2 linked regions of the Homo sapiens genome follow. The protein of the gene in region 2 interacts with the protein of the main gene of each other region in a biochemical or structural test. Each region holds a gene or a part of one and is shown on either strand. Other genes may lie near its edges.

The links. Proteins that work in one complex are often made in the same cells at the same time.
Region 1: the proteins of TOLLIP (region 2) and TOM1 form a complex in vitro, tested with the Homo sapiens proteins (3 studies listed by BioGRID and IntAct, with this or other methods).

What each region holds. Positions count from the first base shown.
Region 1 is NC_000022.11:35,296,080-35,302,914, reverse strand, and holds the start of TOM1 (target of Myb1 membrane trafficking protein), read right to left. Parts: upstream 3,022-6,835; 5' UTR 2,987-3,021; coding exon 2,935-2,986; intron 1-2,934.
Region 2 is NC_000011.10:1,306,633-1,313,515, forward strand, and holds the start of TOLLIP (toll-interacting protein), read right to left. Parts: upstream 3,001-6,883; 5' UTR 2,867-3,000; coding exon 2,834-2,866; intron 1-2,833. UniProt on the Homo sapiens protein: Component of the signaling pathway of IL-1 and Toll-like receptors. Inhibits cell activation by microbial products. Recruits IRAK1 to the IL-1 receptor complex. Inhibits IRAK1 phosphorylation and kinase activity.

The DNA of each region.
Region 1 (6,835 bases), on a different chromosome or scaffold from region 2:
TCAGTAATCACAGCCAGGGAGCAGTACTTCCTCCGCCTCTTTATCTAAAAGAATATGGAATACTGAGGGGATTAACTCAAACTCTTAATTCTACTTTTGGAGCCTCTTCAGCTTTGGTTTAAATTTCAATGACTCAGTTTTGCTGTCAATTTACTGGGGTCTTGGATGAGTCACAGCCTCCACTTTCCCCTCTCTGGACCTTAGTCTCCGCCAGTGTAAAATGAAGGGGATGGGCTGGAACAGCATTAGCATTACCCGGGAACTCAACAGAAATTCACATTCTAGGCCGGACACGGTGGTCATGCCTGTAATCCCAGTACTTTGGGAGGCTGAGGTGGGTGGGTCACCTGTTCAGGTTTGAGACCAGCCTGGCCAACATGGAGAAACCCCATCTCTATTAAAAATACAAAATTAGTCGGGTGTGGCGGAGCGTGCCTGTAATCCCGGCTACCTTGGGAGGCTGAGGCAGGAGAATCGCTTGAACCCGGGAGGCGGAAGTTGCAGTGAGCCAAGATGGTGCCATTGCACCCCAGCCTGGGCAACAAGAGCGAAACGCAGTCTCAAAAAAAAAAAAAAAAAAAAAAGAAAAAGAAAAAGAAAAAGAAAAAAAAAGAAATTCACATTCTAGAGTCCCACCGCAGACCTGGAGAGTCAGAAACTCTGGGGTTGGGGCCCCGACATTATTTAACAAGCCCTCCTAGGAATTCTGATGAGAACCACTGGGTTAGAAGATCCCCAAGGTAAGGCTCTTTTACCTGCAAAATTCCATTTGTGCTTTAAGGTATTATGATTTAGTAGCATTCTCTTTGCACAGAAGTATTTCTTGCCCAAGAAAGGCAACGCTTCAAGGTAAGAAGAGAAGTTTGCTTTGATTAGCTGAAATCCAGAACCCAGGTGAGCTTTTCCAGAAAGCCTTAAGAGTATGTGGCTGACTTTGAAGCCAGGTCTTTTATTTACTTGTTTATTTTTAAGTAGTAAGTCTTAAACTTGGCATGTGATAAAAGCAGTGGTTTCTGTAGTCAGAGAAATATAGATGAGAGGAGAGCTGCCTTCTCTTTTCAGCTCCAAAAAACCATGACTCACTGTGGGGTGGGTGTGTGTCCGGGGAGGGCAGGGGTCCTTTGAGAGGGCAGTTCCTCTCCCTGGTTCAGGAGCTTCCTGGTGTGTAAATCCTGGACTGCCACCTCCCCCTTGGAGAGCATTGATTACAAAACCTCGGAAGAGCCACCGACAGCCACGGTGGCGATTACAACACAGAGCCGGGTCGACAAGCTTTCGTGAGGTTTCGCAAGACACTAAGAATGGAAAATATGTCTCATCTTAAAGTTTTCCCAGTCTGGACTTAAGACGAAAAGTCGTCATCAAAAAAGATGAAGAGTAATTTCACGGTAATGCGATGGTTTCTTCATGCAAGAATGCGGAACACCCAAACCATCCTCCGGAGAAGTGTGGCTGTTTGGGTGAAGGCATGTCGGTTCTCATGGTGTTGGTGCCCAAGAATGAGCACCTATGAGATCTACTGCCAAGCGATTTCCAGGGATTCCTAACCTTCACTTGGTGATCTCAGGAACAACGTGTGTGTGTAAATACATATAATATATATGTATGTGTATGTATATGTATGTTTGTATGTGTATATTTTTATATATATGTGTGCGTGTGTGTGTGTGTATGTGTATGTGTTTCAAGAGATGGGCTCTCCCTGCGTCGTCCAGGCTGGAGTACAGTGGCGCCATCAGGGCTCACTGCAGCCCTGACCTCCCAGATCCAATAAATCCTCCCAGCTCTGCCTACCGAGTGGCTGGGTGCACAGGCACGCACCACCACGCCCGGCTAATTTCTGTATTTTTTTTTTTTTTTTTTTTTGTAGAGACGGGGTCTCGCCATGTTGCCCAGGCTGGTCTCGAACTCCTGGGCTCAAGCGATCTGCCCGCCTTGGCCTCCCAAAGTGCTGGGATTACAGGCGGGAGCCACCGTGCCCAGCCCAGTGATAATAAATATTACAACTGTTTTTTTTTATATGGCACTGGCCATGTACCAGGCATTGTTCTAAGTATTTCACATTTATTAAGGAATTTAATCTTCACAACAAGCCCACGGAGGTGGGGACCATTATTGCCCGCCAACTACAGGTGAGGAAACCTCGGCCCAGGGAGGCTGCGTCACAGAACTGTGAGTATCCTGTCACCAGGGTGCAGAGAACCACGGACCAGCAGACAGGCGCCAGGTGCCCTGGGCTTGGCTTGGCCCGAGTTCCCGGCTGCCCCACCTACGGAGCACCGAGATGGGCTGACCAGGAGGGTTTGTCCGACCACTGTCTGCTCAGGTTCTGAGAGTCTGTGCGGGTCCATTTGAGGTTGGGTCGAGAAAAGAGCCCAGGCGGACACGTCCTGAGACCCGGGTCTGTGAGGCCTGGCCGCGGGCTGTCCGGCGCTGGGCCCCTCTGGCCAGTTGGCCCCAAGACGCCAAGCCCGGGGCTTCGCGGTCCTGGGAGAAGGGACTTCTAGCCCTTCTCAGGTGTCTGTGTCCGGAGGGCCCGGTGAGCCAGGAAGGAGCTGGCCAGAGCCCAGGCGGCGGGACCCAGCAGAGTGGCCCAGCCACTGCCAACCACGCAGTCCCTTTAACCACGAAAACTTTCTCCCTCGATTGGGGACCCCAGCAGACGCACATTGGCTGCGCCGTGGGCATCCGGACCCACCCTCTCTCCTTACCTACTGGCTGTCATATACATCTATCACAAGCCAAGGCTTCCTAATGGCCCAAGTTCTTGTCAATCAAGAGTGGGAGGAAAGCTGGGCGGAGCCAGGTCGGAGAGCTACACGCCAGCCTCCTTGCCCTCCCTGCCTCCGTGACTAGGCACCCGGAGGCTTCCCAGGGGACCGAAGCTGGGTGCGGAGCACCGGGGCGGAGCTGTGGGGGGCTCCAGGGACTCACCGATGCGCTGTCCCACTGGAGAGCTGAACGGGTTCCCCAGGAGAAAGTCCATTGCTGCTACCGCCGCTGCCACCAACCCCGGGAATCAGCTGACAGCAACCGCCAGCGCCACCGACCCGTCACGTGACGCACTCGGAGGCCGGCGAGGAGGCGTGGGCGGGGCGGTGGCACCGCGAAGCTCGACCACAAGCCCCGCCCTGAGACGCCAGGGTCCCGCCCCCGAGGCGGAGGGCGATGACCTCACTGCGGCTTGCTCGGCGGCGGCGGGCGTCACACACGATGTAGGGTCTGGGGTCGGGGCCCGGGAAGCGCGGTCCTCTTTAAGCCACGCCCCTGACCTTTTAGGGCGAGGTCTAAAGGACCCTTTACACATTTGGGAAACTGGGTCGTAGACCAGGGAAGTGACTTGGGTGAGTTACACAGAAGCCGAGACTCTTAGGGTCATAGCCCTTAGTCCTTGGGACCTCACTGTGACTGCACACCTACCCTGGGTGACAGCCTCTCTGGGCTGTTGTCTCCTTGTCCCGGTAAGACTCTTCCTGTTTGATGTCAAGGTCTCCCCGCTCCAAGATGCACCCTGCTCGCAGCCCAAATTATCTTACCTTAAATCAGAGGCAAGGGCAAGGGGTTTGTCATCTGTTGAGACTGAGAGGCAATTTAATGAATTGCAGCGCAATTCCCTCTAGCGCCCAGGATGGCAAAAAGCACAGATGTAGTCACGAGTGGGGCTTTAATACCCGTCTCTGCCATAAATTTACTGTGTGAGCCAAACATAGCTCCCATTTTCTCTAGATACTGGAATTAGATCAAGGACTCGTAACCATTTTTAAAAAATATTTTATTTAGGTCACAGTCTCCTTTGAGAATTTGACAAAAGCCATGAGCCTTTCTGAAGAAAAAAGGCAGCGATACAATTTTGCTTATAACCTCAGGGAGTTTCTGGGGTCCCTGAAGTACAACCGTGGACCCCAAGCTAAGAATCTCAAAGGCCTTTCCCAGCGTTGTGATTCTAATCTCTTCAGCCTTCCTGGCTGTGTGTGGTGTGTCTGCTGACACCTACACACTAGATACCTATCTATGGGTTATGACCTTTTCTTCTGGCATGTACTCCAAAAATACAATAACCATGGCCTTAGTAGTCTGGCTACTGTGGGTGCTTAAGTACTTATTGTGATGTTTGTGGTTTTTAAATCTGAAAGGCTAGTAAATTGACTGCACAAATTTTGGATGACAGAAAACCTAAATTAAGCAAGGTGTGGTGGCTCACGCCTGTAATCCCAACATTTTGGGAGGCTGAGGCAGGTGGATCACCTGAGGTCAGGCATTCAAAACAAGCCTAGCCAACATGGTAAAATGCCGTCTCTACTAAAAATACAAAAATTAGCCAGGTGTGGTGGTACACGCCTGTAGTCCCAGCTACTTGGGAGGCTGAGGCATGAGAATTGCTTGGACCCAGGGGGGCAGAGATTGCAGTGAGCTGAGATCGTGCCACTGCACTCCAGCCTGGGTGACAGAGTAAGGCTGTGTCTTAAAAAAAAAAACAAACCTAAATTAGAACTTAATCACCTCTGTAGATTCACTTGTTTGAGCAGCCATGGGGTCCGATGTCTTTACTGTACAATATAAAAACTGCTTTGAAGTGTTTCCACAACACTCATGAGACCTGTTCACAAATGCCTTTGCCCCCACGAGTCTGGATGTCCCTGGGGGCTGGGCTACTATTTCTGTTTTGCTCCCCACTATTGTCTAACCCAGTAACTAGCACATGAAAGCTTAAATAGATCTACGTTTCAGTAATGGTATTTGGAGTATAAGCGGGGAGAAGGCCATTTAAGATGACCTTCAGGTCAAGGCACTTTCCATGTCTTTCTTCACTTAACCTTATTGCTTGGTCATATGGAGTTATGTTTAGCATGAACTTCTTTTGGATTCTTCCATTAACCTTTATTTATTTATTTTTAGAGGCAAAGTCTCACTATGTTGCCCAGGCTGGTCCTTGAACTTCTGAGCTCAAGTGATCCTCCCACCTCAGCCTCCCAAAGCCCTGGGTTACAGGCATGAGCCACCATCTCTGGCCCTTCCTTTAAGCTTTTAACAAGTTCTTGTAAACTTTATTCATGGTAAAAAAAAAAAAAAAAAAAAACAAAAAAAAACAAAAACAGAGACAACTCATATGCCCCCAAACAGGAAGTGGAATCATAAACTCCATGCAGGCTGGGCACGGTGGCTCACACCTGTAATCACAGCACTTTGGGAGACCCAGGCAGGCAGATCACGAAGTCAGGAGATCAAGACCATCCTGGCTAACACGGTGAAACCCCATCTCTACTAAAAAAATAGAAAAAATTAGCTGGGCGTGGTGGTGGGCGCCGTGGTGGGCGCCTGTAGTCCCAGCTACTCGGGAGGCTGAGGCAGGAGAATGGCGTGAACCTGGTAGGCGGAGCTTGCAGTGAGCAGAGATTGCACCACTGCACTCCAGCCTGGGAGACAGAGCGAGACTCCGTCTCAAAAAAAAAAAGAAAAACAACTCCATGCAAACTGATTACTATATAGCTATTGAAACAGAAATGGAAGTATATGGATTTATTTATTTATTTATTTTTAAAGACAGAGTCTCTGTCACCCAGGCTGGCGTACAGTGGTACAACTGTAGCTCACCGTAGCCCTGATCTCCTGGGCTCAAGTGTCTTCCCACTTCAGCCTCTTGAGTAGGTGGGACTGCAGATGCATGCCACCATACCTGGCTAATATCTTTTAGTTTTTGTAGAGATGGGGTTTTGCTATATTCTCCAGGCTGGTCTCAAACACCTGGCCACAAATGATCCTCCTGACTTAGTCTCCCAAAGTGCTGGGATTACAGACACGAGCCACTGCACCTGGCCAGTATATGGATTTTATCAACATAGTAGATAGGGATGTAAATGGCAAACATTAAAGTTAGTACAAAACTGATTAAAACTGTCTTTAAAAAGTGTGCTAATAAGGAGCAAACTGATTTAGTAAAAAGTGTTTCAATTTACTTTTTAAGTGTTTTAGTAAAATTAATATCATGCCTTACTGAGGGTTAAAATGTTCAAATTTCTTAAGATTGACAGTCTGCATAAATGTAATCTATTAAATCCTTTAAGTGCTTACAGACAAAAATCAAGATACCTTGCCTTCAAAATTTAAAGACAATAGTATGACAAGAGTGAAAGCCAGCTAGATACCCGAACAATGCAAAGATCTGAGACAGCATTCCCACAATCACATTCGCTCAGGACTTGAGATAATGGAAAGCATTCTGATGAATTATAGACATGATTTAAATCTGAAAGTAGCTTGGGGTAGAAAAGAGCCTAGGGTTTGGGGTCAGCTGTTTCACTGTTCTTAATCTGCCTTTGCCATTTACTAGCAGTATAAACTTAGGAAAAGTACTTTTTCGCATCTATAAAGGGAGATAATATTCTTAAGGCTTTGGGCGGAGGATGAGTGAGACAAAGTATGCAAATCACTCTAATAGTCACTCAGTGATACGGTAGTCTCTTCCTTGCTGCCTTTCCATAAGACATTAGCCTTGTAATTAATCATATTATTTTACTATTTATGACTTTTAACACCTTGTGTTTGCACTGAAGTTTTTACCTTGAAAGGTCATATCTCCATATATTCAGTGTTCATAATGTTATTAAACATTCATGTCAGGCTGGCTGGCTGCAGGTCTACAGACAGGGAAGTGACTTTAACACTATTCTATAGATGGGACTTTGGAAGCCTATAAAGATTAAGTAACTTATCAACAGCATTACTGTAATGCTAACAGGACAGTACTGAAACATATCATTTAGCACATGATTCAGATGCAACCCTTATATAAGATTAATCAACATTTTCTTGATTTAGGCCAACACCATAATGCACA
Region 2 (6,883 bases):
TAATTCAGAGGGGCTGGGGTGGGTCATGCTCAGCGAAGCAGGCTGGTGCCAAGGCGGGCCCTGCCTTGCGTGTGCCAGGCAACACTTTACAGAGTGCTGCGCTGAGCCGGTAAACTCCAGGGCAAGTCCAGTCCTCCTGTGCCCAGGACCCTCCGGCGGCCTCCAGCTCCTGCCTCCCTCCATCCTCGGCCCCTGGGGCTCCCTCCTCTCCACCTCCAGACCCCACACCTCTCTTTCCGTGCCCTGCCCTCCCAGCCCAACCCCTACTCCCATTCCTCCTCCGAGAGATGTCACGTCCTCACCCCAACACCCAGCCCTGGTGAGGCCCATTTACAAACTCTCCCAGCACCTGACGCTTAAGATCACAGACCCACCGGGCCGTCACCACACAGCTCAGCTGTCCTTATGTGCTGCCATGTCTACCGTGCTGCCCTGGAAGACCCCAGTGGCAGGAACCACCTGGTTGTCCCCTGCATCATGGCCATCCTGAACGCCACAGTTGGTAGCGCTGGTTGATTAAGTCACATGTACTCCAAGCAACACCTGAGACCCCCGTCGCTGACAACACCTTCTTAAGAGACCCTGGCAGCTCCGAGCCAGACCTCATGTTACTATGCGTTTACCGGTCAACGGGGGTGCCCCTGAAATACCTGCTCGTCTACATGATGGAAACAGCCCAGGAGGCACTGGGCAAGAGGAGATTCTAACGACACCTCAGCACTTGCCAGCACAGGCCCTGCGTGTGAGAACATCTCCTGCCGCTCCCACTTCCTCATCGCGGGTGTAACAGCGCTGCACGCCGGTGCCCCTCAGAACAGGAAGGGCCTGCCTCCCACTGCTCCCTGCCTGCTCAGCACCTGATGCATTCAAAATCAGTCCTACACCCCAGTGGGGTTCCAGATGAGGAACAAGTTCCCAGGAGGCAGAGGATGTCTCCCAGACCACACAGCAAGGAAGGGGCCATCCTGCCTGGCCACCATGCCCCCCTGCTCTCCAGGAGGACACAACAGCAGGGTGCTGGTTCCCTTGTTGCTCTGAGTCTCCTGTTAGGCAGAAAGGAGCACTTGGCTGCCACGGCAACTTGCGGGGACTCACTGTGGTGGAGTAAAGATGAAGAGGTAGAGACGCTGCCATCAGAGGCCGTCCAGGACCTCTGCCGACCCGTAGGCTCCACACCTGAGTCTCATAAGTGTCAGGAGGTTTCCTTCAAAGTCCTCAGAAAAAGCAGCTATGCCCAAAACCTGGGGCTTCATTCTAAACTCAGAAAAAATGTTCTACCTGAAGAATTATCTCCTCGGGAGAAACACCAGGACTTGTGGATACAGTGTTAAGGGTGGGGAGCCCTGGTGACCCCTCCACCACGTCCAGTACTGGGCTGCGCGAGGGCAGGGACCTTGGAGCATCGTGAAAAAGGACTTTTTCCACCCACGGCATGTTCAGAGCCACTGTTGATAAAAACTGTACCGCTCACGACAGCCTGCCCCAGCCCAGCCTCAGTGAGTGACACGGTTTGAATCTGTGTCCCCGCCAAATCTCACGCTGAATTATGATCCCCAATGTTGGAGGTGGGGCCTGGCAGGGTGGGTGTGTGGGTCACAGGGACAGATCCCTCGTGGCTTGGTGCTGTCCCGGTGATAGTGAGTTCTCACAAGATCTGGTCATTACAGTGTGTGGCACCTCCCCACCCCCAACTCTCTTGCTGCTTTCGCCATGTGACGTGTAAGCTCCCACTTGGCCTTCCGCCATGACTGGGAGCTTCCAGAGGCCTCCCCAGGAGCAGATGCCGGCACCATGCTACCTGTACAGCCTGCAGAACCGGGAGCCAATTAAATCTCTTTTCTTACAAATTACCCAGTCTCGGTATTCCTTTACAGCAATGCAAGAAGGCCCTAACAGTGAGCCAGGAGGCCACTCACGCCAGGAGCCCATCATCTCTGAGTCAGTCTACACCAGCTCTCCTGCAATATTAATGCTATAGAAGAAACTGCCAGGCAACTCTCAGGAGAGAATTCAGAGCAGGAAAGGTTCTCTGAAGTTCCTGGCGCCTATCCTCTCATTTGCAAATGAAGAAACTGAGGTTTTGCACGGTGGCCACTAACCGGGGACACAATTGGGCCCAAGAAGTGGTCACCACTGCCCTCACTCTGTGTAAATGAGAAAGAGGAAACAGCCATCATCTATGGGACCAACTAGAGTGCAGGCCCGCCTCCACCTGGGGGGCCATCAGGGTGCGGGACCCGCCTCCACCTGGGGGGGCCATCAGGGTGCGGGGCCCGCCTCCATCTAGGGTGCCATCAGGGTGCGGGACCCGCCTCCACCTGGGGGGCCATCAGGGAGCAGGGCCCGCATCCATCTAGGGGACCATTAGGGTTCAGGGCCCGCCTCCACCTGGGGGACCATTAGGGTGCGGGGCCCTCCTCCATTCGGGAGTCAGAGCTCGGGGCCGCCTCCATCTGGGCACCGGGCCCTCCTCCATCTGGAGACCATTGGGGAGCGGGGCCTGCCTCCCTCTGGGGCACCATGGGGCACGGGGCCCGCCTCCATCTGGGGCTCACAACGGGCGCAGGCCCCCTCCCCCGGGGCTGCCTCCCCAAAGCTCTGCCCCGGCACGGCGGTGAGCTCAAGCCTCCTGCAGCGTGGGCGCGTCCGTCCGGCCCGCCCCGCCCCGAGGTGTGGACGCCGCCGCTCCCCTCCGGCCGGCCAGGCGCCCCGCGTGCCCCGGGAGAGCCGCGGAGTCGGCCCGCCAGCCGCAGCTGAGCAGTAGCCCTGACCCAAGGCCCCGCCCGCAACCGCAGGTCACCGCCCCCGCCCGACCCTCGCCCGGCTGCCTCACCGGCCCGCGCTGAGTGCTGACGGTGGTCGCCATGGTGCTGCGGCGGCCCCCGTGGCTCGCCGACCCGACAGTGACGCGCCGGGCGACCTCCTGCGCCCCCGCCGGAGCCTGCGACGGAGACAGTTGTCACCTCGAGGCCGCCGCCGCCACAGTCAGCTGACAGCCGCCGCGCCCCGCCCCCGGCACCGCCCCACTGCGCAGGCGCCGCGCCAGGCACCGCCCCTTCCGGCTCTCGCGCGCACGCGCGCTCCAGGGTAGGGCAGGCGCAGCCTCTCGCCCGGCGCCTGCGCACCTGCTCTCTCCTCGAGCCCTGCAGCCCGGCGAAATGGCTCCCGGCGGGGCCGTTTGCGCATGCCCAGTCATGACGGTTGTCGGCGCGGGCCCTAGCGTGGCGGCGCTGCAGTCTGGGCAGTGGGTTGGTTCCTCCTCGGTCCTCTGTCGAGTGGCGACAGGGCCTAGCCACCTGGCGGGGGTGACCTTCGGACGTGCGACCCGCTCGGAGAAGGGAGGGAACTGTGGCCCGCAACAAAGCAGTGACAGGCCCGACATCCCCTGCAGGGCGATCTTTCCCTCAGCTGCCTGCCGGAGGAAGGGCCTTTCTGTTTCACAGGGCTAAAGATGGGGCGCGGTTCCTCCACGGGGCGGCTGCCGGGTGAACGGAACGGGGATGGAGGCGCTGCCAGAAGAGCCCGAGCTCGAGCCCGCCCTGCCCTCGGCCTCCCCGCCGCGCCGCTCCGCAGGAGCCCCGCTCCTCTCCTGCTCGCTCCGGAGAACCCCAGTCCGGCCTGACCTCGGCCCTCGCGGTCAGGCGCTCCAACCAGAGCGACTCCAGCTCGAACAGCGCTGGGTAAACTGAGGCTGAACCCCGCTGGCTGCATCCCCAGGAGTCGGGCGTTTACGGTCACGGGAACAGGTTAATAAACTTTTACGCAGCAGACCCGGAACTTAGGTCCCGATGTCCGGGTATCTTAAGAACAAGAAGCATTCTTAGTTGAAGTTTCGCTTTAAAGATAATGATACAGATGCTTGCGGAGGACAGGCGTTATGCAAAGATTGGCAATCCTTTGACGAGCCCAGGTAGTACAGCACGTCTCCCCCGTGATGTTTTTTGGCTTTTATCTTACATATAAACAAGCGTACCCAGGTGGACGCCTTCCTCCTCGTGCTTTTGGGAACACCCTGCTCTATGGAGTAGCCATTCTTTTATTCCTTCACTGCCTTAATAAACTTGCTTTCACTTTACTCTGTGGACTGGCCTGGAATTCTTTCTTCCACAAGATCCACGAATCCTCTTTTGGGGTCTGGATCAGGACCCTTTTCCGGTAACACAACCACTCCACTAAAAACTCTTTGTCAGTGATCTCTATATTGTTAGTGGTCAGTTCTCAGTCCTCGTCCTCCGGGAACTACAGCAAAATCGATAGTCATTCTTGCTACACATGCTTTCTTCACTCCCCATCCAGGACACCATGTGCTCTCACTTTCCTCTTATCCCAAAGACCACATCTTTGGGTCTCGGTTACCAGTCTCTCCTTTTAAAACCGGCAGCCTGGCCGCTTGCCTGTTTTGATGGGGTGTAGAGAAAAAGAACGAAAGCCCCTTCCTCAAGTTGTAGCTTAACATCCAGCCAATCCACAGCACAAGACCCAAGAAGCTATTAACCACAAGTTCCTGCTTTGGGGGCCTAGGGACTTCCCCGGGCCCCACATGTGCAGTTAGACTTATACTTCAACTATTGTTACCCCTTCCTCATTTTCACGCTAAAAATCACACCTAGGGGTAGAGATTTAAAATGTGAATGTTGCATGCAATGCATGAAGAAGCATGCAAAGCTACTGAGAAGCACTAGACAAACCCCTCCTATCCATGCCTGGACCAATCCCTTCCCTGTGAAACTAACCCACGTGCCACCCCCTGGCGGCGGGGCCCCCCACCGTTTTCCTTTCATGGTGCTGACTTCCTTGTGCACAAGCTAAATAAAGATTTCTCTTTCTCCTCGCTGCTATGTCTGCTGATCTCTCTTTATTTCTATCCTGGGAGATTACAAGATGCCAGGGCACACTGGTAACACTTTGACTCCTTAACATCGGAGTGCCTTACCTCAGGGCTCAGTCCTTGCACATCTTTTCTATCTACATCCTCAGTGAGCTCATCCAGTTCCATTCCTTTAAATGCCATCCATATGCTGATGATCCTAAAATCTGTATCTCCCACCAGGACCTCCGCTAAACACTAGATTCAGCTCTTGCCTTAATATTATTCCCCTATGGGGTGGACAGGTTGTAAGGTAGACATATGATCCCTGCCTCCTGGTGTTCACATCCTTGAATAATCCTCTTGTCTTGAGGGTGGACAGAGCCTGTGGCTTGCTTTTAAACAACAGAATATGGCAGTGGTGATGGGATGTCCCTCCCATGATTACCTGATGTTATAAAAGACTCCATCTTGCTCTCAGACTTATTCTCAAGGGTCTCTCAGCTGCTGGCTTTGAAGAGGCGAGGTGCCATAATTCCTACAACTTCAAGGAAACAAATTCTGCCAGGAATCTGAGGGGGCTTTGATCCTTCCCCAGTCAAGCCTCCAGATGAGAATGCAACCCAGCTGACAACTTAATTATAGCCTCGTAAGACCCAAGAATAAGCCAGCTAAGCTGTGCCTGAACTCCTACCCCACAAAAACTCTGAGATAAGTGTGTGTTGTTTTAAGCCACTAAGCTTACAGCCACGTGATCTGACTTAAGCATTATTAGAATTCCAGAAGAAAAAAGGAGAATGAGGCAGAAAATCTGAAGAAATAATGGCCAATAATTCTCCAAGTTAATGGTAGGCACCAAACAAAATATTTAGGAAGCAATGGATTCCAAACAAATAAACAAAACACTTAGTCAGGTCATATTCACACTGCTGATAACAGAAAGCAAGGAGAAACTCTTAAAAGCAGACAGAGGAAAATGACACATTACATCCAGAAGAATGAAGATTAGAATAGCAGACTTCTCATTGGAAAGAAGGTAAGTCATGTGAATGGAGTGACATCTTTAAAGTGCTAACAGAAAAAAAATTATATGTCAATTGAAATTTCTTGCAAAATGATATGGCGATGTATTTCAGAACAGTGGTTATCTATGTGTGTTGGAAGTGAGGGACTGGAGATTGACTAGACAGGACCATGAGGGAACTTTCTGGGGTGGTAGAAAGATTATATACCTTGATTGGGATGGAGTGGTTATACCAATGTGTAAATTTATCAAAACTCACATGATTGTAAACTTATGATTTGTGCATTCTGATGTATGTATGTAAGTTTTATCTCAATAAAAGGTTAATGACAAAAAGAAAACACTTTCAATATATATGACAGAGTTAGTCTAAATGTATTAAGAGTGCCTACAAATTTCTAAAAAGAAGACATACAGGCTGGGCGTGGTGGCTCATGCCTGTAATCCCAACACTTTGGGAGGCCAAGGTAGGTGGATCACTTGAGGTCATGAGTTCAAGACCAGCCTGGCCAACATGGTGAAACCCTGTCTCTTCTAAAAATACAAAAAAAAAAAAAAAAAAATAGCCTGGCGTGGTGGCACATGCCTGTAATCCCAGCTACTTGGGAGGCTAAGGAAGGAGAATTGCTTGAACCTGGCAGGCAGAGGTTGCAGTGAGCTGAGATCATGCCACTGCACTCCAGCCTGGGCGACAGAGCAAGACTCTTTCTCAAAAAAAAAAAAAAATGTCTATTCATGTCCTTTGCCCACTTTTAAGTGGGATTTTTTGATTTTTTACTGTTGAGTTGTTTGTATATTCTGGATATTAGTCCCTTGTTGGATGAATACTTCGCAAATATTTTCTCCCATTCAGCAGGTTGTCTCCTCACTCTGCTGATAATTCCCTTTGCTGTGCAGAAACTTTTTAGTTTAATATAGTCCCATTTGTCTATTTTGTTTTTATTGCCTGTGCTTTTAAGATCTTAGCCATAAAATCTTCGCCTAGACCAGTGTCCTTAAGTGTTTTTCCTGTGTTTTCTTCTAGTAGTTTTATACTTTCAGGTCTTACTTTA